4 linked regions of the Homo sapiens genome follow. The protein of the gene in region 1 interacts with the protein of each later gene in a biochemical or structural test. Each region holds a gene or a part of one and is shown on either strand. Other genes may lie near its edges.

Region 1 (6,703 bases):
TATTACTGCCATGATTCCATTCCCTAGATGATGCTGGTGATGCAAGCTGGCTTCTCTTGGCCAGCCTACCTACTGCTGGGTAGTGTTTATGCCCCATGGCCAGACACTGAAGAGGGAGACAGGAAAAGCACATATCCACACCTTCCACCCTCAGACATTCCTGTAACTTGAGCTTATCTAAGGGGGCATTGTCATATGTCAGGGGTTCCCAAACTACGGTCTTCAGAAACACTGTTTACCCTCCATAGAGGTTGTGTGCATCAGCCCAGGCAGAATCCTGCTTCATGAAGGTGTTTTCCTAATGCATGTGTGCATGGACCTGTCTCATGCTACACTGCAGGGCTGGTATTCAGCACCAATAGTTATTGTTGGCTGCTAAAATAGCAAACTACTCAAAATGGCAGGTAAATAGCCCCAAGCCCCTATCCCCAGTGTCCTCCCACTACTCAAACCCCTCTCCCTCAGATCTGCCCCCAGTCCAGTATCTACCTGCACTGTTCAATATGGTAACCACTGACCACATGTGACTATTTACATACAGTTTATTAAATGCAATTAAAAGTTCAATTCCTTATTGCACTGGCCACATTTCAAGTGCTTAGCTGGCACATGTGGCTAGTGCCAGTGCCTACTGTATTGAACGGTACAGACAGAGCATTTCATCACTCTAGAAACTGGATGGCAAGTGCTACCCAGCACAGCAGCCGTGAGGACCTTTCTTGGGCTGCTGACTGTTCTGTCTGTGACTGTGTCATATCAACTGACTTTTTGGAGCAGCATCTGTGTGTTAGCAGGACACATCACCTATGGCACATGCCTCAAAACTTAACACTCCTTGGGCCCCAGGAGCCCAGAATCAACTGACAGCCCTGGTGATAGTCAAGGACAGGTGACTATGTTTATATAAGCATGTTCCTATGACAGGAATGTCCCCTCCTTCTGCCATTGTCTATGTGAACATAAACAAAAGGATTTTTTTTTTTTTGAGACAAAGTCTCACTCTTGTCACCCAGGCTGGAGTGCAGTGGCACAGTCTCAGCTCACTGCAACCTCCATCTCCCGGGTTCAAGTGATTCTTGTGCTTCAGCCTCCACAGTAGCTGGGATTACAGGCGCCCGCCACCAGGCCCGGCTAATTTTTTTTTTTTTTTTTGAGACGGAGTCTCGCTCTGTCGCCCAGGCTGTAGTGCAGTGGTGCAATCTCGGCTCACTGCAAGCTCTGCCTCCGGGGTTCATGCCATTCTCCTGCCTCAGCCTCCCGAGTAGCTGGGACTACAGGCACCCGCCACTAGGCCCGGCTAATTTTTTATATTTTTAGTAGAGACGGGGTTTCACCGTGTTAGCCAGGATGGTCTTGATCTCCTGACCTCGTGATCCGCCCGCCTCTGCCTCCCAAAGTGCTGGGATTACAGGCGTGAGCCACCGTGCCCGGCCTAATTTTTGTATTTTTAGTAGAGATGAGGTTTCACCATGTTGGCCAGGCTGGTCTCAAACTCCTGACCTCAGGTGATCTGCCCACCTTGGCCTCCCAAAGTGCCAGGATTACAGGCATAAGCCACCATGCCCGGCCAAATGAAAGGTTTTTTTTTTTTTTTTTTTTTTTGGTGCCCGGGCTGGAGTGCAATGGCATGTTCTCGGCTCACTGCAACCTCCACCTCCCAGGTTCAAGCGATTCTCTTGCCTCAGCCTCCTGAGTAGCTGGGATTACAAGCACCCGCAACCACGCCCAGCTAATTTTTGCATTTTTAGTAGAAATGGAGTTTCACCAGGCTGGTCTCGAACTCCTGACCTCAGGTGATCCACCCATCTCGGCCTCCCAAAGTGCTGGGATTACAGGTGTGAGCCACCGCGCCTGGCCGAAAGGATTTTATAATAGATGCATGTCCCTGTTCACCCCAAAGTCAAGTTCAGGCGGGATGCCAATAATAAGTCCATCAGTGTTTCCATAAAAAGTAAAATCATCTACAAGTTAAATTTCTCTCTAAAAAGGCCACACCCCTTATAAACAATTTACTTTTTATAAAAAGACAAATGTACATATTTACACACGTCCTTATGTGTTCACACATGACTTAATGGTTAGATGACATTTCCAATTTTAAGTCATACCAAGGCGCTCACACTTCCCTCCCTGGGCCTGTTGAGGGCTGCTGGGGCTTGAGGGGGTGGTGGGCGCCGAGCAAGGCACTGTATAAATAAATGCAAAGGCCAAGAGCTCGGGGGAAATGTTAGTGTACACCTCTGATCAGAAATGTGGCAAGATCCACACGAAAAAGTGCCAAGTTTTTTTCCCAAGCCCCTCAGCCAAAGCAGGGAGCAGGGTAGAGCTCCTCTGAGGCTGAGGGAGCATCGCCCCGAAGGACCCCACTTTCCTTCACATTTCACTGGCTTTGGAACAGTCCCCAGGGCTCAGCTGAAAAGGGGGTAGTTCTTTGGGAACGAGATTCATTTAGTGCAATTTTCTCTTAGTGCAGAGCCAGCCCTGGGATTGGTGTTATGCTTTTCTGGGGTCACTGGTCTGTTCCCCTAGGAGCCAGCCAGTGACAGCGAGACCCTCTCCAGGCAGCTGGGCTCAGAGGAAAAAGCCAGACACTGACTCCTGTCCAAGTCCCTGACCTGATACACTGGTCTCAGAACCTCATCTTCCCAGGAGGCAGGGCCAGCTTTACACCACAAGAAAAACCCAGACACTGGCCTGCCAGGCCCTGAGAGGTCAATGACCCAAGGAGGGAGGCCCCATCCCCACTTGGCAGTGGGGTCACACTTGGCTGTTGAGGGGCCCACAGAAGTCCAGCTTCTCTGCACCATATCCACCATGATGCCAGGTCCTGCTTGCCTAGAGGAATAAGAGGGGCCCAGGGGCCCTGCTACGGTGCACAGGGAATGGCCTGGATGGAGGGCAACCGGACTGGGGTCAGCAGGCTGTCCAGCCAGGTGGCATCCATGTTCTTCAGATCTGTGAAGACACGCTGTAGACTCAGCCCAATATCCCCTAGAAGATGTGAAGAAGGTTGTATGAGGGTAGGGGACGGTGGCATCAGGTGTGCTTCCCCCTACCCCTGAAGGCCATAGACATGGCCTCTGCTCTTCCCAGCACAGCAGTAAACATCCACTCAGCTTCAGGCAAACCTTAAGGCATGGCAGCCGTAGCTAATTCACAATGTGTCAGTACCCCAGATGCTTTACCGCCCTGCTCCCTGGCCCTGCCCCCAAGCTTTCTCCATCCCTACGTGGTTCTCCCTCATCTAAGAAGCCATAAGGATCCAGGGCCTTCTTACCCCCTGGGCTGTCAATTTCTGGCTCCTCCTTACAGCTAAAGTCTCCATAGACAGAGGTGGGCTGGACTCCAGGTTCATTGAGTAGGTACCCCTTCCCATCCACGTTTGTTGGCTGCCACTCCGACTGCTCCAAGAGCTGGGGACAGAAGAGCAAGAGGCTATCAACTCCCTTCCAGTGCAGACTCACCCTGTGGCCCTGCCCTCAATGAGCCAGCTCCTCTCAGCCAGTATCACACCCTTGGCCATTTTCACAATCTCAGATAGGATGCAGAAGTGCACTGCAGTCAGGACAAGGGCCCGGGAGGGAGGAGGCAGAAATGCATGTTGGCACTGGTCCTCAATTCATTTTCCCACCCCTCTCACACCCACTCTCTGGTATAGCATCTCCACGACTTCCCTCTCAACTGTGTAAGGACATAGTAAGAGGGAATGTGGCTTAAAACAAAGGTTAGCATAATAAATCAAGAAAAGATGACTAGAAAAGCTAGAGATAAGGAACGACATCCATGTCTCAATTTTTTGGGCTAATGGAACAGCTGGCGTACAACTACTGCAAAAACTTTTTTTTGAAATGGAGTTTTGCTCTTGTTGCCCAGGCTGGAGTGCAATGACACAATCTCAGCTCACTGCAACCTCCGCCTCTCAGGTTCAAGCGATTCTCCTGCCTCAGCCTTCAGAGTAGCTGGGATTACAGGCATGCGCCACCAGGCCCAGCTAATTTTTATATTTTTGGTAGAGATGGGTTTCACCATGTTAGTCAGGCTGGTCTCAAACTCCTGACCTCAGGTGATCCACCCACCTTCGCCTTCCAAAGTGCTGGGATTACAGGCATGAGCCACTGCCCCCGGCTGCAAAAACTATATTCACTTTCAAAACTGAAGCAGAAAAAAAAACCTGGAGGATAATTTGCTAACTTTTTCTATAAAGCCATCATCATATTAACGGATCCTAAAGGCTGATTATTGAAGCCTGATGTGCATTTCCCGAACTAGCAGGGCTGGGGCATGTTGGGGCAGAGGATGCAGGCCAGGGACCCATCGCTGATAGTGCCTGACTCACAGAGCTGTCTGATGCCCCAAGGCTTGCTTCAGGACGGCCTGTCAGAGGCCAGGCCTCCCACCTGCCTTCCCTTCCCATGGTGGCTTTCCCACCAGTCAAGCCACGTGAATGTGGCACTTGTGGGACAATGCAAGCAGCCAGGTGACAACAGCAGCTACCCATCCTCTGATTTGGAAGCTTCACTGGTTCTCTCTCCTCACTGAGAAACGGTCACTTCAAGAGTGCCCAGGTAGGAAGGGGCTTTACCTTCATGATGTCCTCAGGTAATTTCCCTTCCTCATCCTCATCTGTTGTAGCTGTGGATGGGGAAAGCAGAGAGGTTGGCTGGCAGTCAGCCACACTCACCCTGCAGTTCCAGTTCCAGCCCACCAGATCCCCCTGCCCTTTCTCTGTCTCTCTGTCTCTCTGACACACACACACACACACACACCCTCCCGGTGGACCTATCTGCCATAGAGATTCCAGAACAGGACCCTGGCCTGGTGACTCAGCCTCTCAAACCCTGAAGCCACGCCGCTTCCCACCCCTACCCTACTTCCTTCCTCACCCTCAGATGCTGGGCTACAGAGGAGGAAGGAGAACCAGCACCCCAAAATGCAGCCCCTGGCCCCCTTCCCTCCTCTCACCAGCCCCCACTGTACTGCAGCCCACTCTGAACTGCCTTCCTAGTGTCCCCGTCGCTTGCCTCCCCCTATGGTGGCTAAGACTGGGCAATGCCCAACTCAATCAATTCAGTGCCAGGTGGAGTTCTGATCATCTTTTCTCTCTCAGGAAGCCCTTCACAGGACCCAGACAGTCAAGCAGGCAGGCCAGGCCCCAGGAGCACCAACCTTCAGAGGTGGAGGGCATGGGTGACACCTGGAAGTTGTACAGATCACTGGTGCTGTCCGGCACAACTTCCACTGGGATGTGCCAGTCGGGGAGAGTGCTGCTGACAGCACATGGCGACAGTGCTGGGGAACAGCAGAAGCCACAGGTCAAGGTTGTGTGCTTTCTTAGTTTGCAAGACATCGAGCGCCCTCCGACCAACCCTGCAGCCTGCACTAATGGGCCACCATGTGCCAGCACCATGCCTCCAAGAGAAAGAGTCATCCCACTGACCTGTGGGGTCTCCTGCCAGACCTGGACCAGCTCACCTGGAGTCAGGGCCTGCTCCACCTCCAAGTCCTGCATGTAGCCTGGAACTGTGTAGCTGCTGTGGTCATCAGGCAGAGTGGAGCTGCTGAGTCCATCAGAGAAGGTATCAGGGCTGGAATCCCCACATGACTGTCGAGGGAGAAAGCAGCTTAGGCCCAGGCCCACCTTAGCATTTCTTCCACTGCTCACCCTGGCCCACAGGTGACCAAAGGCCTGGCTGCTTAGGACCACACTCACCTTCCTCTTGGCCTTGCTCTTAGCATCTCGGCTGGACTTCGACTTTCTTTCTGTGGGGCAGACGGGCTGTCAGCCTTGGTGCAGGCTCTCCAGCCCCAGCTGACCTCCTTCTACCCTCCCTCCCTGAGGGCTTCCCAAGGACCCAGAGTCCTTGGATACCTTTTCTCTGGTTCTTGGTGAGAGGTGGAAGCATCCGGTACACTCGCACAGCTGAGCTGCCCTTGTTCCTGCTCTGGTCTTTCACCTCCTCGATATCTGGCAGGGAGTTCATGGCACAGCGAAAGTTGGCCTTCCACGTCTTGGGATCTGGCTCCTTTTCCCCTGCTTTGTATCGGCCTAGAGGGCAGGAGAAAAAAGAGGATCGTCAGGGCCATGGGTAGGGATCCTCAGCTGCCCCTGGCCTGAAGGAGGAAGGCAAGGTACCCCTGACCTCTTATGCTACCAGAGAGCCACAGTGGTCAAACCAGCAGGTACTCCCGGTGACACTCTGCAGGTCCTAGGCCCTGGGCCTTCTCAAATGCCCAGGCTTGGCTTAAACACATCTAGCGGGCCTCAGTGAAGGGCCCAGCCAGAAGCACTAGAGTCCCCATATCCCCAAAGTGTACTATCTGTGTCTCAGACTATGCCCAGTCTTCCTCCTTGGGCTATCAGCAGCCAGAGGGTAGAGTGGGCACAGACTGGGCAGCAGAGAACAGTTACTAAATGGGTGGGCTGACTGTTCTGAGATGGGCCTAGAGCTCCATCTCTCAAGGATAAAGGAGGCCACCAACCACATGAGGCTTGGACCAAGGGCCTTGGTCAACACGAAGAAAAAGGCAGACCTGGGTCTCTTTCAGTGCCCTGGCTTACAGCTGCTTTTCACAGATGCTTTTGCCAGGGAGAACTTTCATCTAGCCACAAACCCCCTGAAGCCACACACTTTCTAAGATCTTGGCTTTTCCCTTTGAGAATTTGCTGAGATGATCGACTCTCTTCTCCAGAAACACAAGTCTG
Region 2 (3,140 bases), on another chromosome or scaffold:
TTTGTGACGCGCTGCCGCCTGCAAGGCTCTGTTCCTGCCCCCGGGTCGCAGAGCCCCAAACCTGCAGTTGCCTGGTCAGTGGATCCCATGTGCAGAGGGCGAGACGGGGCCCTGGCCAGGCGTTGGGAGGCGGGAGGCTCGGCCGGCGCTCCGGGTGAGGATGGCACGCCCCCGCCCTTGCTTCTGCGCACAGGGAAGACATTCGGCCCCGAACTTGGGGCTCAAAACGGTTCAGTTCGCTGCCTTTCCCATCCTGACCCAGCCCCGGGTTTTTTCCGAAGCCGCCGCTGGATAGGTTGCATTACTAGGCTTCCCCCAGCCACTCTCCCTGCCCAAAGCCTTCAGAAGCCGCCCCTCTCCCCTTCACCTGGCCCTTATCCACTGTCCCAGCCTCATTTCTTTCCCCCTCCCTGAATGTCTTCTGCTCCCCTTTCCTTGGGCACTGCCCTTATCCTGGGGTCCTGGCTGCTGCCATTCCTGGCCCTGGAAAACCAGTGCGGAACCCAAAGAAAGGTGGAAGAGCAGCTTTTAGAGAGGTGTTTTTATTCTTTGGGGACAAAGCCGGGTTCTGTGGGTGTAGGATTCTCCAGGTTCTCCAGGCTGTAGGGCCCAGAGGCTTAATCAGAATTTTCAGACAAAACTGGAACCTTTCTTTTTTCCCGTTGGTTTATTTGTAGTCCTTGGGCAAACCAATGTCTTTGTTCGAAAGAGGGAAAATAATCCAAACGTTTTTCTTTTAACTTTTTTTTTAGGTTCAGGGGCACATGTGTAGGCTTGCTATATAGGTAAATTGCATGTCACCAGGGTTTGTTGTACAGATTATTTCATCATCCAGATAAAAAGCATAGTACCAGATAGGTAGTTTTTTGATCCTCACCCTCCTTCCATGCTCCGACCTCAGGTAGGCCCCAGTGTCTGCGGTTCCCTTCTTTGTATCCATGTGTACTCAATGTTTAGCTTCTACTTATAAGTGAGAACATGTGGTATTTGGTTTTCTGTTTCTGAGTGAGTTCATTTAGGATAATGGCTTCCAGCTCCATCCACGTTGCTGCACAGGACATGATCCCATTCTTTTTTATGGCTGCATAGTATTCCATGGTGTATATGTGCCACATTTTCTTTTTTTTTTTTTTAAGGCAGAGTCTCGCTTGGTTGCCCAGGCTGGAGTGCAGTGGCAGGATCTCGGCTCACTGCAACCACCACCTTCCAGGTTCAAGCGATTCTCACGCCTAGGCCTCCCAAGTAGCTGGGATGACAGGTGCTCGCCACCACGCCTGGCTAATTTTCGTATTTTTAGCGGAGACGGAGTTTCTCCATGTTGGCCAGGCTGGTCTCAAACTCCTGACCTCAGGTGAACCACCCGCCTCAGCCTCCCAAAGTGCTGGGATTACAGACATGAGCCACCACTCCCTGCCACCACATTTTCTTTATCCTTTCTACCACTGATGGACATTTAGTTTGATTCCCTGACTTTGCGATTGTGTATAGTGCTGCCGTGAACATTTGTGTATATATGTCTTTATGACAGAATGATTTAGATTCCTTTGGGTATATAACCAATAATGGGATTGCTGAGTCAAATGGTAATTCTGTTTAATCATGTCCCATTTGTCAATTTTTGCTTTCGTTACAATTATTTTTGGGATCTTTGTCATGAAATCTTTTTCCGTTCCTATGTCCAGAATGGTATTGCCTAGGTTATCTTCCAGAGTTTTTATAGTTTGGGGTTTTACATTTAAGTCTTTAATCCATCTTGAGTTGATTTTTGCATATGGTGTAAGGAAGTGGTTCAGTTTCAATCCTCTGCATATGGCTAGCTAGTTATCCCAGTACCACTTACTGAATGGGGAATTCTTTCCCCATTGCGTATTTTTGTCAACTTTGTCAAAGATTAGATGGTTGTAGGTGTGTAGCTTTATTTCTGGGCCCTCTATTCTGTTCCATTGATCTATGTGTCTGCTTTTGTACCAGCACCATGCTTTTGTACCAGTATCATGCAGTTTTGGTTACTGTAGCCCTGTAGTATAGTTTGAAGTTGGGTAATGCGATGCCTCCAGCTTTGTTCTTTTTGCTTAGGATTGCTTTGGCTTTTTGGGCTCTTTTTTGGTTTCAAATAAATTTTAATGCTTTTTTTTTCTGATTCTGTGAAGAATGTTATTGGTAGTTTGATAGGAATAGCATTGAATCTATAAATTGCTTTGGGTAGTATGGCCATTTTAACAATATTGATTCTTCCTATCCATAAGTATGGAATGTTTTTCCATTTGTGTCATCTCTGATTTCTTTCAGCAGTGTTTTGTAATTTTTGTTGTAGAGATCTTTCATCTCCCTGGTTAGCTGTATTCCTAGGTATTTTATTCTTTTTGTGGCAATTGTGAATAGGATTGCATTCTTGATTTGGCTCTCAGCTTGGATGTCGTTGGTGTATAAAAATGCTACCATATTTTGTATATTGATTTTGTCTCCTGAAAGTTAGCTGAAGTTGTTTATCAGATCTAGGAGCTTTTGGGCCAAGATCATGGGGTTTTCTAGATATAGAATCATATCGTCTGCAAACAGAGATACTTCGACTTCCTTTCTTTTTGGTTGCCTTTTATTTCTTTCTCTTGCCTGATTGCTGTGGCGAGGACTTCCAGTACTATGTTGAATAGGACTGAAGTGCCTTGTTCTACTTCTCAAGAGTAATGCTCCAGCTTTTGCTCATTCAGTATGATGTTGGCTGTGGTTTTGTCATAGATGGCTCTTATTATTTTGAGGTATGTTCCTTCGACGCCTGGTTTGTTGAGGGTTTTTAACATGAAGTCAAGTTGAATTTTATCAAAAGCCTTTTCTGTATCTATTGAGATGATACGTGAGTTTTGTTTTTAGTTCTGCCAAACCTTTTCTTTTAAAGCCCAACGAATAAAACCCATCACCTTTCACAAGACCACCACAGCAAGTAGGCAGGAATGCCAGTGTTAAAAGTGAAATCTTTTGAATTTGTAGTACCTTTCCTTTTCCAAATCTAGCTGAAATTTCTCACTTGTTTTCCTTTTGATGAAGCTAACCACCGGCATTTCTCCTAAGAAATGGATATAAAAAAAGTTTGATATGGTTAAAGTAAGAAGTGCTAGCTCCTAGAATATCTCTGGATATTGCTG
Region 3 (7,038 bases), on another chromosome or scaffold:
TTAGAAACAATATTGTTTTAATGTTGTCTTCTTTGTTTTTTAGTCATTTCAATTGTAAAATCAACTGAAACTTAGGTTCTCGCCATCTATATAAAAACTGAGAGAGGAGGCCTCAGATTGTATGCAGTGCCACGGAAAGCACTGTGTGCATATTATATTTAATGCAATACAGATACTTTAGCTTTAATTTTAAAACAAAACTCAAGAAATCTTTATCTCCACCAAAGAAGAATACAGCATTTGCATGATAATATAGTTGTGGTAGCAGTAGTGGAAAAACAAGATACAGCCACATAGACAGCAGTATGTAAAAGGGAAGAACCTTGTCAAACCCATCTCTTAATCTACTTTTTGTGTCAGTGATAAGGAAGGAAAAAGGTAAAAATACAGTATACTTCACGAAACATCATCCACTCAAAAAAGTGTCTGGAAAAAGTACAGGAGAGAGAATGGAACCATTCGCAAATGTGAAAAACACATATATCAGCGAAACATATGCAGTTCTCAATGCAGTTACATAGGAAATGAGTTTTGAAATGATCTGATTCTCATATTATCTCTGGTGTATTATTCAAGTTGTCAGTTACTGCTTTTTCTACTCCTTTCCCAATTTTGTGGCTAATAGACTAAATACCACCCTAATAACAAAAAGGACAAAGTAGCCCATTTAAGAAACATGAATTAAATTTCTGAGTTTATCTACATCTATGGTTAATTTCAACTTTTGAATGAGTGGTTGTGAATAGCCTAACTCCCTTGGGAGAACTGTAAAAATAATTGTATGTGACCAAGATGAAAGCAGAATGTATTCAGCTTTGGATATCAAACACAACTTGTGAATTTGGAAATGTACATCCTTCTATTGATATTAGCTAGTGTCATTAAGCCATAACAAACAGTAAAGCTAATATTCTCTTCTCAAGAAACAGAATTTGTCTTTGTCTTTAAATAGCCAATGTGAAAGATGTAATAAAATACACATTTTCCCCCTACCAGATCCATGATGGCTACCTTTGAAAGAGGACTGATATAATTGTATATAAACTTGGCTTTGAACTATTTCACAGGTAAACCAATGGAAAACTGCCAGTTACACTTAAAGCAAAGAAAACATGTAAGAATTCTCCCACAGAAATTTACCGTTCCTACGTCAAGCAGTTCCCTAAATAACCACTGATTTATCCAACAACCTATAACAGTTGGGCACTGACTTTATGCATAACATTTGCTAGATGTTGCTTAACTTCTCCTTTCCCAAAGGACCCTCATTCTCGTCCTGATACTTTGGGTGTATCTGGATGTTTTTCACTTGTGAAACCCACTCTTCAGAGAATGCCTTTCAATTTTACCTTCAGTAAGATGCATGATGCCCTTCAGAGTAACTGATGTTTCTGAGTTAGAGAAAAATTCACTTGCTATCAACAGGTTGCAGCGAATTTGCTGGCCTTTCTTTCATTTCCCTAGAAACACAGGATGTGAAGGAACAGAGTAGCAGGAGGGAATCACAGATGAGAAGGAAAACTGTCGCCAGAGAAGATGAAAAAAATTCATGCTCTATACTGTGTTCATCTGTAAAAAGACAAAATGTGGTTAAGTTTATTACACTGATCTTGTGAAATGCAGACTCATACATTAAACATTGCTTGTCTATTCTAGAATGAAGTAGTAGGAAGATACTTGCAATGGCAAATAAATACCGTGGAATAAGAGGGCCTTCAGCATGTACTATGTATTATCCTGGGCTAATCAAGACCTTTTATATCACCTAAGCTGACGGATTATTACTCTGCTGCCCACTGGCTTAATTTTGTGAATCCATCCAGACTGCATAAAGCTTTTTGCTGTTATGCAAGTCTGGGGACAGAGCAACGTGTCAAATCTGCTCATGTGAAACGGGTGAGGAAATGCTGAGCCATATGCCAGAGGGAGAGAGGAAGGAGAGGGAAATGATACACTTCCCCTAAAGGCCACTCAGTGGGTAAAATCAATGACTGTGTTTCAGGTACAGACTAAAGAAGCAGAATTACTAAGAACCCCTTCACCTTCCCCACCAGTGCCTTCTGCCCAGCTGCCTTGACCAGGACAACTTATAGTAAGTAAACTGTTCATCCAAAGGATACTAGCCTGCCAGTGACTTCCTGTCTGACTTCCACACTGGTCTTTCCCCTTAGACCAGATGCTTTCAATCGAGGATGATTCTGTCCCCTGGCAATGGCTGAAGACATTGCTGATTGTCCCATCTGGCTGTGAGGGTGCATGTGCTTACTGGTATCTATTTGGTAGAAGCCAGAGGTGTTGCTGAACCTCCTACGAAGCACAGGAAAGCTCCCCACCCCACCAATCCCCAACAAATAATTCTGAAGCCCCGAATACCAGTAGCACCAAGACTGAGACACATGGCACTAGACTGGAAAGCCTCTGGAGAACTTTTTTTTAATCCCAAGTGCTCAATAGTGTGTGGTACATAGTGGGCTCTTAGGAAAATTATTTTGGATTGAAAAGCACAGTGAAAGTGTTGCCCCTATGTTTCAGTCTAGCTTATGTTTCTCTTTTCTTTTTCTTTCTTTTTTTTTTTCAAATTGGAGACGGAGTCTTCCTCTGTTGCCCAGACTGGAGTGCAGTGGCACCATCTTGGCTCACTGCAACCTCCACCTTCCAGGTTCAAGCGATCCTCCTGCCTCAGCCCCCCTAGTAGCTGGGATTACAGGCACACACCACCATGGCTGGCTAATTTTTGTATTTTTAGTAGAGATGGGGTTTCACCGTGTTGGCCAGGCTGGTCTCAAACTCCTGATCGCAGGTGATCCACCTGCCCCGGCCTCCCAAAATGTTGAGATTACAGGCGTGAGCCACCGCGCCCGGCCTGGCTGATGTTTCAAATGTGTGCTTAATAGGGTGGACCGTGGGGGTAAAGAGAGGGAGGGAGGGGGAGATAGATAGATAGAGGAAGAGAGGAAGCCCAGATTCAGATCCTGTCACTGCGTGACCAGGGCAAGTGGCTTAACCTCTCTAAATCTCAAAGTCTTCATCTATCAAAAGGGGATTAATAGTACCTAGCAGATAGGCTTGTTAAATTAGATGGCATACGTAAAATGTTTAGTATAGTAGACAGAAAGTAGTAGACAATTAATAGCTAGTCCTATCATTATGAGCTTTGGCTAAAGGCCTCTTGGAGAGTAGACTGGTTCTATTACAGTCCCAGAGGAAAACACTGATTACACAGGAAATCCAGACTAAACAAATGCCCAAGTCATACTGCAGAGAACACTGGTGCTCTGGCTCTCTTGGACAATTTCCTCAGGAGCCTATGGTCCTGTTGCTCCTGAGGCTGCACCAGGCGTTGGCCCCTGGTACCACCCTCTTTCAGAGCTGCAACCTCCAGACTTGGCAGAAGACAGCCAGCTTGGGGAGAGCTGCTTCTGTTTCAGAGTATACACTCTGATTCTAAGAGTAGATGCTGGATGGAAGTCATGGCCAAGGGGCAGGACAGCAAACCATTGTGAAGTCAACCCAATTTAGAGACTGATTCAACCGTTGTCTAACCAGTGCCGTGCCTATATTATGAACTCTTTTTCTTTTCTTTTCTTTTTTTTTTTTTATATTATAGCCTCTTTTAGCTCTTTAAGTCTTCTATGGGTTTAATGGGAGGCTTTAGTGGTGTATAGAGGGTGTGTGTGTGTGTGTGTGTGTGTGTGTGTGTGTGTGAAATGGATTTATTTTATTCTACAAATGAAATGAATAAAATCACCTGAAATGGAACGGAATGGCTACAGCGAGTGTCCAAAGACCACAAAACTGTTTCCTGACATGTGCTTAGCATATTTAAATTGTTCTCACAGTATCATCCTGAGAGCAGAGAGAGCAGTCCAACTGCTCCACAGGACTGCAGAGAGGGAACCAATCCATCTATTTTCTCAATAATGGTGATGACAGAGATGGAATGCTGATTGCCAAATCCCAAACACATACGGGCCTCTCACCCAAAGGCCATGATGCCTTTGTCTTAATAACAGAATAAACCCAATCCTGTACAAACAGCTTCTTCAGGGTGCATGTTTTGAATGGGGCAAAGATTAGCTTTTTGTGGGAGGCTTTCCAGGATACCGGACAAAAGCATGCACTAGAGACTCACTAGGTAGATTCAAATATTCTTTCTACCATTTACTAACTGCTTGATCTTAGTCAAGTTACATAAAAGGGGCTGTGTGGGGAGGAGGGGCTCTGTTCCCACATCTGTCAAAGTAGGAATAACAATAACACCTAACTCAGAAGGTGGCTGTGAGGACTGAATGAGTTACTACCTGTGAAGTACATGGTATACTGTAGGTGCTTAATGTCACCTATTAATGGTGGTGGTGATGATGATGTAATTTGCTCAGGAACAACAAAGGAGGTATAAAAAATCCCCCCATTTTACAGTTCCTGTGATGTAACATATTTTCTGAATAGGGCTTTATATTTATTCCATTTTTGTGCCAGGCCTATAGCAGTGTTGGGAGCGAAACTCTAGCAGGATCCTTCTTACATGCAGAAAAGGTTCATTTTACACTTGCCAATAGGAATGAAACTATTTCGCTGCCACAATAGCTAACTGTTTTTCTAAATGGCCTATTTCGTCAACAACAATCAGGAAAGTGTAGGAAGGTACAATCTCTAATGATTGTAGCCCGTGCTTAAGGTGAGGAAAAAAGTCAAAAAATTACACATGAGAAACCTGAATCCAGGCAGATCTTACTGAGGCCTTATCATCGCATTCCCCAAATGTCTGAAGAGTGACGCCCTCTCATTCTCGCTCACCTTTCCCCTCCCTGCCTTCCTCTCTTTGTTGAGCACCTACTTTTTGCCAGGCACCGGGTATACAGTAAGGAAGAAAGGCCAGTAATAACTCAGGATATTTTTTGGAAGCATTAAATAAATTTTTAAAAATGAGCTGGAATAGCTCCATGTGGAAAAGAGCTTAAAATTAAACAGCATCAGCAAAAATCCAGCCAAGCAAGCACAATCTTTAAGAGGAAGGATTTTAGGCTGAAAGGCAAACAATACTAGTTGATATACTAAAAAAGCACCCTCCAAAAGGAAGATGTTCCCTTTTGTGGACAATCATATTCCCATTTCTATCACGAATCTCATTAACTATTTCACTCCTTGAACCTTTTACTCTTGGCAAGCCCTTCACAGCCCCAGGAGCTACTTGTACAAATTAGCTCTCAAATATAAGGCAGATGAAGTAATCTCATTGCTGCTAAAGTATAATTCTCTCTAATTACTGTAACTACCAAGCGTTAGTCCCTCCCTTTCTAAAAATAACACTCCCTCCCCTAGACACAGTGATGAAATCGCATTCCGAAGAAAAACATTTGCTTATCAAAGAAATCTTAGTTCCTTAATATATGAAATTTCTACATGGACAACTTTAAAGGGGAGAGGAGGAAACCTGAATATTAGAAATGTCACTTGTTTTTTGGAAGGTGCTGAATGCGAGGAATAAAAATCCCACTGATGATGTAGGTGGTTTAAATCCAGCAGCTCCAACTTGTCATGGCTCATCTGAGCACTGCACTCTCCTTGGCTCCGCCAGGGCTCCCTCCCGCAGACAGGCCCGGGATCTGCCATGGTGCGCTCCCTGCCTCTGAGCACACACACTTATTGAGAGCTACACACAGGCCAGCCGTGGTACTCACCATACTGTCGAATTCTACAGAGCCCACTATCCGAGACACCTCGTCAAACTCCTCAGGAGACATGGGGAGCAGGTTGTCTGTGGTCTGAAGTCTAGAAGGGTGACTAAAATGGGGAAAAAGAAAAGAGCAATGTCAACATCTGAGTGATGAAAGCACTAGTGCATACTTACACACTTTATCTTTTGTCTGTAATTGAATTATCACGTTATATTTTTATTTTGGGTAAGTGCATACACTTGTAAAATACATTTGCAAAAGTACAGCTCATGGGAGGCTCATGTCCCCAGCCCAGCCCCTTGGGAAATGTTTCACACTCCAGGGATGTGATAAGCAATAGCCAGACTGGAATCTGTGCCGCTTCTGCCTGGGTAAGCCTAGGTGTGAGCATGTGCGGTGCACTACCCTGAGATGACAATGCCTCGTGGCTTACCCTGGACAGAAAAGCACCAGAGAAATGTCTGGGGAGTCCCTCATCCCTACCTTGAGGTTTGAATGCAGATAAAGCTGCTCCACACAGTGTTTTTACATGAAGGCTACATCCATTCACCCCAAGACAGTGCTGCAGGCCAAATAACTGACAATGACATTTCCAAAATTTTTTCTACCTTTTATAAAATGAAACAACAAAATCAAAGCAAGTGGAGACAGTGTATCTCAATCATTACTTTGGCCTTTTCTAGATTGAAAAGAACTACTTTCCCACTCTGATCAACTTTTGCTCATTTTATTTATACTTTTTCAAAGGGTATCAGTTTTGGGAAAATTTATATACCTTAAATACAAATTTGGTTTTTGGCTTTTTTTTTTTTTTTAAAGTAGTAAAATGCTGATAGGCAGTAACACGGGGATCTCAACAAGTTCAGCTGTGATGGCGATAGCAATTACAATGGAAAAGTAAAATACAAGCATCTTCAACAGGCCCCAGCCAGGAGCAAGGCTGGCTTGAGGTTTGTAAACATGTCACTCTTCTGTGTTCACTTACACTTCAGACACAGAAATCAACTCAGTCTTGATATATCCAGTTCCTTTAGGGCCATCAAGTTCCATTGGCTCTGGTGCTAGAAATAAACACATTGTGTACGCTTTCCATCAACCGAAATTCCATCAGAATACAACATCAACTTTTCGGGGGGATTAAAGTTCTACTGTGTTTCTAGACAGCTTAGCCTCCTAAAACTTTAAGGAGCTATAACCTCCCTGCCTGAGTCACCTAAAATTCTAGTGGGAATGCAGAAACAACGAGAAGAAGGATCTGAATTCAGTCTGGAAATAAGCTAGTGTTCAGCAGGACACTAGCTAGGAGCTTTCTCTTTACACAACTTGAAATCTTACAAGAAGTCTGAGCCCAAAATATGCA
Region 4 (7,038 bases), on another chromosome or scaffold:
TTGTATTCTCCCGGAGACCTTTTGCTCTCCTAAGGGCCTGGACACAGTTCCCCTGCTTCCTGCCTGGGAGGCGCTGAAGGGATCAAGCGAGTGCCATCTGAAGCTTCCCCCCATGCCACTTTAAATGGCTGCAAAGGGGCAGAGCTGACGGGAGCAGTGAGTAAGCCTCCATGGCCCTTGGCCTCTGCTGTCCTTCAAGGATACGCACAGGCCTGCCTGACCCCAAGAGACCACTAGAAAGGCAGGCTAAGACCAGGCAAAAGTGAGAGATGTATCTTTTCTGAAACACCTTAGTCACTCCCTTCAATCCTCAGAAGACCGACCACCAAGGCAGAGATAGTCACCCTAGATTCATGCCTCTGTAATTTCAGAATATAGTCTGCAAATTATATTCCCAAAAAGGTGCAGGCCAATTTGCAGCAATACAAGAGAAGTAGCTACCCATCCAGAGGCAGGAGGCCAGCGGGAGCAGTGTGACGCCCTGGAAGACAGCACTGTCTCTGATGAGGACCCTCTCTGCTTGACAATCTGCCTTCTCTGGCAGCACACGGACACATTAACACTTCTGGAAGGATCTGTTAAGGGGTGAAACTTAAGTGGTAGCAAAAAGGACCCTCAAGATGAGGTAGATACACCATGTCTGGCTGATCAAAATCAGAAAGAAACAGGGTACCTAGCTTGTAGGGACTCTAATATTCGCTGAGTCAAAGAAAAGGAAAGTTCTCAGTGCCCAATTTGATTACTCGTAGCTCAGGAGGCTATGAAACCATTTTACCTAGGTCCCCCATAAAACAGACAAACCCTGAGCCCGTAAAACAGACAAACCCTGAGCTGGAGCCCTGCAAATGCCCCATGTGGTAAGGGGCAGCCACTAGATGCAAAGAATCCCTCATCAGCCTTTTTCCAGTGCCTAAGAGAATCAACTCTTGGACAAACAGAGAGCAATCATGTTCCCAAACCTTCCTTCATTCATTATCCCCAAACACAACTTCCTTTAGGAGGAAAACTGAAGTGGACAAAGGAAAACCAAGAAAAGCATGGCAATGATACAAAAAAGTCTGGAAGTAAGCAAAAGAAATGGCTGACAAAACCAGTGTTCCTGGGTCTAAGTGGGCACAAGAGTGGCCTGACTGTATTGGTGATGTATTGGTGAAGAGTAGGAAAACAAGATGGAGATGGCAAAGAACTATTATCTAACACAGCTGAACAAAGCAAGCCTCAGCTCCTCTGCTGTAAGAGCTCCAGGAGGAAGTGTCACAGGAGGGTGTGGGGCCTCCTCCCCAGAGCCAAGTCCAGCACTGTGTCCCCACCCCATACCACAAACTTGCCTGGTCCCTGCGGCAGCATCCACAGCATCCCCCAGGACTCATGCTCTCCACAAGCCAACAATGCCAGACCCACCGGCCTGAGACCCTTCTGCCCAGCAGCTATGCAGCTCTTAAGAACTAAGAATCTTAACCACGCTGTAGCACATCTAAGAACTGTAAATGCAGCTTAACGAGGTCACAGCACAATCTTCTTTAAGCAAGTAACTGTCAGGCTCAAGGTCTGAGAGAAAACCTCCAGGGCTTGGGCACCAACTCCCCTCTGGTGGTCAGACCATAGGACGCCTTTCTCTACCTTCCTTATCCTTTCCCCACCTTCCTTATCCTTTCCCCATTCTCCAAGTGTTGAAGTGACCCAATCCCAAACCCTGGTTAGGACCTCCCATTCTGAAAGGTCGCTAAGGCAGACAATCTAGGTATAATTAATCCCTGTAGTGTTTAACCTATCGCTCTACAACATACAGGTTCTGGAGGCAGGGCTGACAAGCAGAGACACATAAAGATCTCAGAATCAGGCCGGGTGCAGTGGCTGATGCCTGTATCCCAGCACTTTGGGAGGCCAAAGCAGGCGGATCACGACGTCAGGAGATCAAGACCATCCTGGCTAACACGGTGAAACCCTGTCTCTACTAAAAATACAAAAAATTAGCTGGGGGTGGTGGCGGGCGCCTGTAGTCCCAGCTACTCAGGAGGCTGAGGCAAGAGAATGGCATGAACCCGGGAGGCGGAGCTTGCAGTGAGCCAAGACTGCGCCACTGCACTCCAGCCTGGGCAACAGAGTGAGACTCCATCTCAAAAAAAAAAAAAAAAAAAAAAGATCTCAGAATCAAGCTGTTTCTCTTCCTAGGGCCAGGGCTCTGCATCTGCAATCAGGGAGTCCCTGCAGACTCCAGGGCCTACGTAAAGGTACGTGGGGGCGCATGGGTGTGGTTTTCTATAGTTTCTATGGCTTTCACCCTATCCTAAAAGGGCTCTTCATAAGCCCAGTAAGGTTCAGAGCTACTGCTCTAAAGGATTAGTGTTAGGCAAAACCATGGGTGCTAAGAATGCTCTCCTTGCTGACAGCAGCTGGCTCTTCTATGAAACACAGAAAGAGCCATGGAGTGTGCTCCAGATGCCACCTCTGCATCTCCACCTCAATTCTGAAGTCCACTCTGAGACGTCCTCAAGTTGTGATCCATTATTTTCACATCGTAAATATTCTCATAAAGTAACAACATTCTCACAACTGATAGAGTTAAAGTTTTCCAGATTACCTTTGGCTTGAAAGAAGGAATTTCCTCAACAGCTAAAAGAGGCAGTAATTGTACAGGCCAAATACAAACTGAGTGGCTTTATATTCAAATTAAGAATGGAAAAATTAAAGTGATGCTCTCTTATTTTGGGAGCACCACCATCAGCTGGCCTGCTGTTTGCTGACCCTGCGAACCTGCCCTGCTAACTACTTGTAATTGAAAGGAGGTATAACTTGTTTCCCATGTCTCACTATTCACACGTGACAAAAACGTTCATTAAAACTTTGTCTGACCAGGCTTCGGCCTACTCCACTGAATCACCTCAGCCTCCAAGTATGAAAAAACAGAAGTTGATGAACAGCAGATGAACATATAGAAGACACTCCCCTACCCTCCCACCCTCAAGCTTCCTCAAAATACAGCCTTGGTAAGAAGATTCATGTACAGCTGCAGAGCTAACAGCCTCTTTGAACTATTTGCTGATTTCTGCAGGATTCATTACCATAGTCAGGGGACAACTTGACTTCAGAAACCTAATGGGAAATAACTAGAAGAACTGGAGTTTGTTCCTCAAAATTTGGATTAAGAAAAAAAGGTAAATAAAAGGAAGTGAATAAACCAGAAGCCAAAGGGAAAATATTTTCCCCTTGGCTGTTAGGAGGGATTAGCCAAAGGGAGACAGGAAAGGGCTCCTCCACAAGAGGGCCTGCATTTCTTTATAATTCACCCCAAAAAGAACAGCACCCCATGAGGGGCTGCTTCTGACTGATTCTAGCCATGCCTCTCGGCGGAGAGCTACACTTTGGCCTTTCATTCTAAGGCTAATCCTCTGAAGCAGGAGTTGACAAACTACAAGCCCACCACCTATTTTTGCAAAACAAAGTTTTATTAGAACACAGCCACAATCATTCATTTACGGATTGTCTATGACTGCTTTCTCACTACAACAGCAGAGTTGAAGAGCTGCAACAAAGGCCATATACCCTACAAAGCATTTTTTTTTTTTTTTTTTTTTTTTTGAGATGGAGTCTCACTCTATTATCCCAGCCTGGAGTGCAGTGGCACGATCTCGGCTCACTGCAACCTCCGCCTCCCAGGTTCAAGCGATTCTCCTGCCTCAGCCTCCCAAGTAGCTGGGATTATAGGCATGTGCCACCACGCCCAGCTAATTTTGTATTTTTAGTAGAGACAGGATTTCATCATGTTGCCCAGGCTGGTCTCGAACTCCTGACCTCAGGTGATCCACCCGCCTCAGCCTCCAAAGTGCTGGGATTACAGGCGTGAGCCACCGTGCCCGGCTGCATAAAATATTTACTGTCTGATCTTACAGAAAAAGTCTGCCAATCTCTACTTGAAAGATAAGAAATGACAGCCATTTGGTTGGGTTCCACAGTCTGACAGGAGAGGAGGGCAGAGATGCAAAGGTGCTTTGCCTCAAGAGACCAGAGTAGTGAATCAAATTATGGGGCACAGAACCGTGGTATGGCTTGCCCTCTAAGTTGTATGGGCACAAAAGAAGGGATCTTGCCCTGGGTGCCAAGGCTCAGCCTGAACTCTGCCCTATACTTACTGTCCCCCAGGATCAGTTCCACCTCCTCATCTGCATCAGAGTCTTCATCCTCCCCGTCCTCTCCCTCCTCTAGAAGGTTTGCTAGCTCCTCATCAGAGGGAGAGAAGTCATTGTCCCCATCTTCCCCTGCGTTCTCATTATTGTCGTCCTCCTCCAACTCCGCCTCCAGCAACTGGTCAGTGTCAAGCTCATCTAAATCATCGGTGTCATCATCATCTTCATCATCATCTTCTTCCTCCTGTTCTTCCTCTTCCTGGTAAGAAAGCGTAATGTTCATTAGTACAAACACAGAGGCCTGACCCATGGGGGCCACATGGCGGGTCGACCAAAGAGACAGGGTAGGAAACTGTCAGTAGAGGGTAGTAGTGATCTAGACGAGCACAGACTTCATGAGCCAGCCAGACTTGTCAGTGATGGCTGAGATAGGCACACATGTCCCTCAAGACGGTCAAAGCACCCCTCAGACAAGGATTAATGGTCACATAGCCCTTATGCAAGGAAACAGACAACTCGCTTCACAGAAGTCTCTGCCTTCAATATTCTAGGAGCCCAAGGGGACTCTTCTTTCTCACCTGCATCAACCAAAGCAAGTGAAATCAGCTGAGACACTAGAAAAAATCCTTTTACCTGGAATCTAAAATGCAATGCTTTAACAAAATGGAAGAACACAACTGCTCATTATCTCCTCAGCCCTTCAAGCTCTTGCCCTTGATCTTCTAACCAAGAATGTGGATAAGCTCCTAACTATGCTATCACAAACATTTGATCAGAACAACATTGCAACAAAAGACTTAAAATATAGAACACTAACAGAAACCCATATTTCCTGTCATAAGCCAAAAAGAAAAAAAAGTATGCTGGAGAAACTATCTTTCTTTCCATTCTTACAAGAACTTGCAAAGGCAAGAAAATTACCAGAACATCAATGAAATACTTTGTTCTAGGGACTCTGGGCTTTGTAAATGGTACATTCTGGCATCTGCCACAGATTTCAGGTTTGCATTAGAATCCCAACTGTTTCCCTTCAAAAGGGAGAGGACACAAAGATACCTCTTTGCTTTGACAGGGATAAGAGGCATTTCCAAGTAAACGTAGCTGCCACTCAAGACACTTATCTTTCTGCTCAAACATCAACTGTCAGCCTTGCCAATAGCAAAGGATTCTAATTGTTACAATAATAAAATGTAAAATTCATTTAATACATCAACCTAATGAAATTCAAGATGGAATAAGCCCAACGTAAGCACAAAAAAATTTTTTTTGTTCTTATTATTTTAAAACTTATACTCAGTGGTTACATCTTTTTTCATTTTGAAGGTGTTATTGCCTGCCAAGCACTTAAAAAACAAGCATTTTGTGCTTACCCAGCCACTAGAAACCAGTGTGTAACATAAGCTAGGATCATTCAGCAGGGTAGCTCCGCTTTGTGGACTTCTGGTAATTTTGGAACCACCATTAGTGACTTTTTGATAAACTGTGTAATTCAGTAATTTAGACTCTTCAAAATTTCTGCCAGTTATGTTGGAAAAACTGAGCCCCTTTTAAATACCTAGTACTCCTAATACTTGTGCAAGTGCGTGTATGGTCTGTACCAGATTCGGTGGGAGCATTTGTGTATGTGCCAACACACACACACATAGAAGGCCTGAGACTATTCCAAAGCCTTGGCCACACATCCCCTCCAGAGGTGAGTGGATAAATAACTACTAAGCATTCACCCGCCTCAAAGGAACTATGAGTGTCTGGAGTCAACAATGATAAACTGAAACACAGACAGGCTCTCAGCCCCTACAAGCACATAAGCTCATACAAATAACTGGGAAAGGAGAGCGGGGTCAAAATTCAGGGGATATCATCCAAGTGCTTACCAGATTACAACTTTTGCCTCTTTTTCCAGGCGTATTTTCATAGACTTGACCAAAATTAGCTAATCCACTAACAAAGTGCCACAGTTAAAAATAAGTAAGGAAGAAAGTACCCAGGGCCCTGTGTCTTAAGGCTTCGTGGACAGAACACTTATATTTAAAATTTAAGATAGCACAACTAAAGGTCCACGGTTGAGTGTGTACATGAAAGGTTAAACTGCTCAAATAGGCATGGGCTAGCCAGAAAATTCATGAAGACAATTCTCTTTCATTTTGAAGAACATTGAGGCTTAGCTGATCTAGAAGAACTGAACAAAAAGCTTCCATATCAAGAGCAATCCTGGAATATTTTCAAGCAGGGTCTAAGCTTTGAACTAGATACCATTCCAAACTCTTCCAGCAGCAGACAAACCCAAATTTTACTTAATTTTATAGCAGAAGAAACAGATGTATATATATTCATCCCAGAAGGCCACAAACACATATGTGACCATGAGAGAGAGGAGGGGAAATTAGTAGGAAAGAGATCTACCTGAATCTCAAGTTGAGCACCTCACTTTGTCGTCTCTACTTTGTATTTAATGCCCAATGCTGATTTCTCACCATGCATTTTGTCACACATGGACATAGCCATAAACTCACTTTCCAAATTTTAAATCTGAAACTGGGATCATGAAGCAGAGGCTCACAAGACTCATCCAAAATGCTGTGGCAGAACCCAAAAGAGATTCTAGGAAGCAATTTTAGGTGCATTCTCTGCTGGTCAAGTAACTGGTGGCATGAACCCCTCTCCTTCAGATCTAAAGAATAAAGCTTCCAATAATGAGTGGTCCAAAAAGTAAAAACTAAAAATAATTATTTAATGAAAAAGCAAAGCTTAGCTGGGCACAACGGCACACACCTGTAGTCCCAGCTACTCAGGAAGCTGAGGCAGGAGGATCACTTGAACCCAGGAATTCAAGGCTACATTGAACTACGATTGTGCCACTGCACTCCAGCCTGGGCAACAGAGTGAGATCCCATTTCTTTGAAAACAAAAACAA

The links.
Region 2: the proteins of IRF1 (region 1) and XAF1 form a complex in vitro, tested with the Homo sapiens proteins (one study listed by BioGRID).
Region 3: the proteins of IRF1 (region 1) and STAT1 form a complex in vitro, tested with the Homo sapiens proteins (one study listed by BioGRID).
Region 4: the proteins of IRF1 (region 1) and DCAF1 form a complex in vitro, tested with the Homo sapiens proteins (one study listed by BioGRID).

The regions. Positions count from the first base shown.
Region 1 is NC_000005.10:132,481,085-132,487,787, forward strand, and holds the end of IRF1 (interferon regulatory factor 1), read right to left. Parts: intron 6,047-6,703; coding exon 5,870-6,046; intron 5,761-5,869; coding exon 5,711-5,760; intron 5,603-5,710; coding exon 5,473-5,602; intron 5,290-5,472; coding exon 5,167-5,289; intron 4,633-5,166; coding exon 4,583-4,632; intron 3,414-4,582; coding exon 3,278-3,413; intron 2,992-3,277; coding exon 2,867-2,991; 3' UTR 525-2,866; downstream 1-524. UniProt on the Homo sapiens protein: Transcriptional regulator which displays a remarkable functional diversity in the regulation of cellular responses.
Region 2 is NC_000017.11:6,773,034-6,776,173, reverse strand, and holds the end of XAF1 (XIAP-associated factor 1), read right to left. Parts: intron 3,062-3,140; coding exon 3,005-3,061; 3' UTR 527-3,004; downstream 1-526. UniProt on the Homo sapiens protein: Seems to function as a negative regulator of members of the IAP (inhibitor of apoptosis protein) family. Inhibits anti-caspase activity of BIRC4. Induces cleavage and inactivation of BIRC4 independent of caspase activation.
Region 3 is NC_000002.12:190,969,149-190,976,186, forward strand, and holds the end of STAT1 (signal transducer and activator of transcription 1-alpha/beta), read right to left. Parts: intron 6,764-7,038; coding exon of another isoform or gene 6,740-6,763; coding exon 6,664-6,739; coding exon of another isoform or gene 6,660-6,663; exon of another isoform or gene 6,390-6,659; intron 5,785-6,389; coding exon 5,682-5,784; intron 1,570-5,681; coding exon 1,555-1,569; 3' UTR 1-1,554. UniProt on the Homo sapiens protein: Signal transducer and transcription activator that mediates cellular responses to interferons (IFNs), cytokine KITLG/SCF and other cytokines and other growth factors.
Region 4 is NC_000003.12:51,399,013-51,406,050, forward strand, and holds part of DCAF1 (DDB1- and CUL4-associated factor 1), read right to left. Parts: intron 4,384-7,038; coding exon 4,131-4,383; intron 1-4,130. UniProt on the Homo sapiens protein: Acts both as a substrate recognition component of E3 ubiquitin-protein ligase complexes and as an atypical serine/threonine-protein kinase, playing key roles in various processes such as cell cycle, telomerase regulation and histone modification.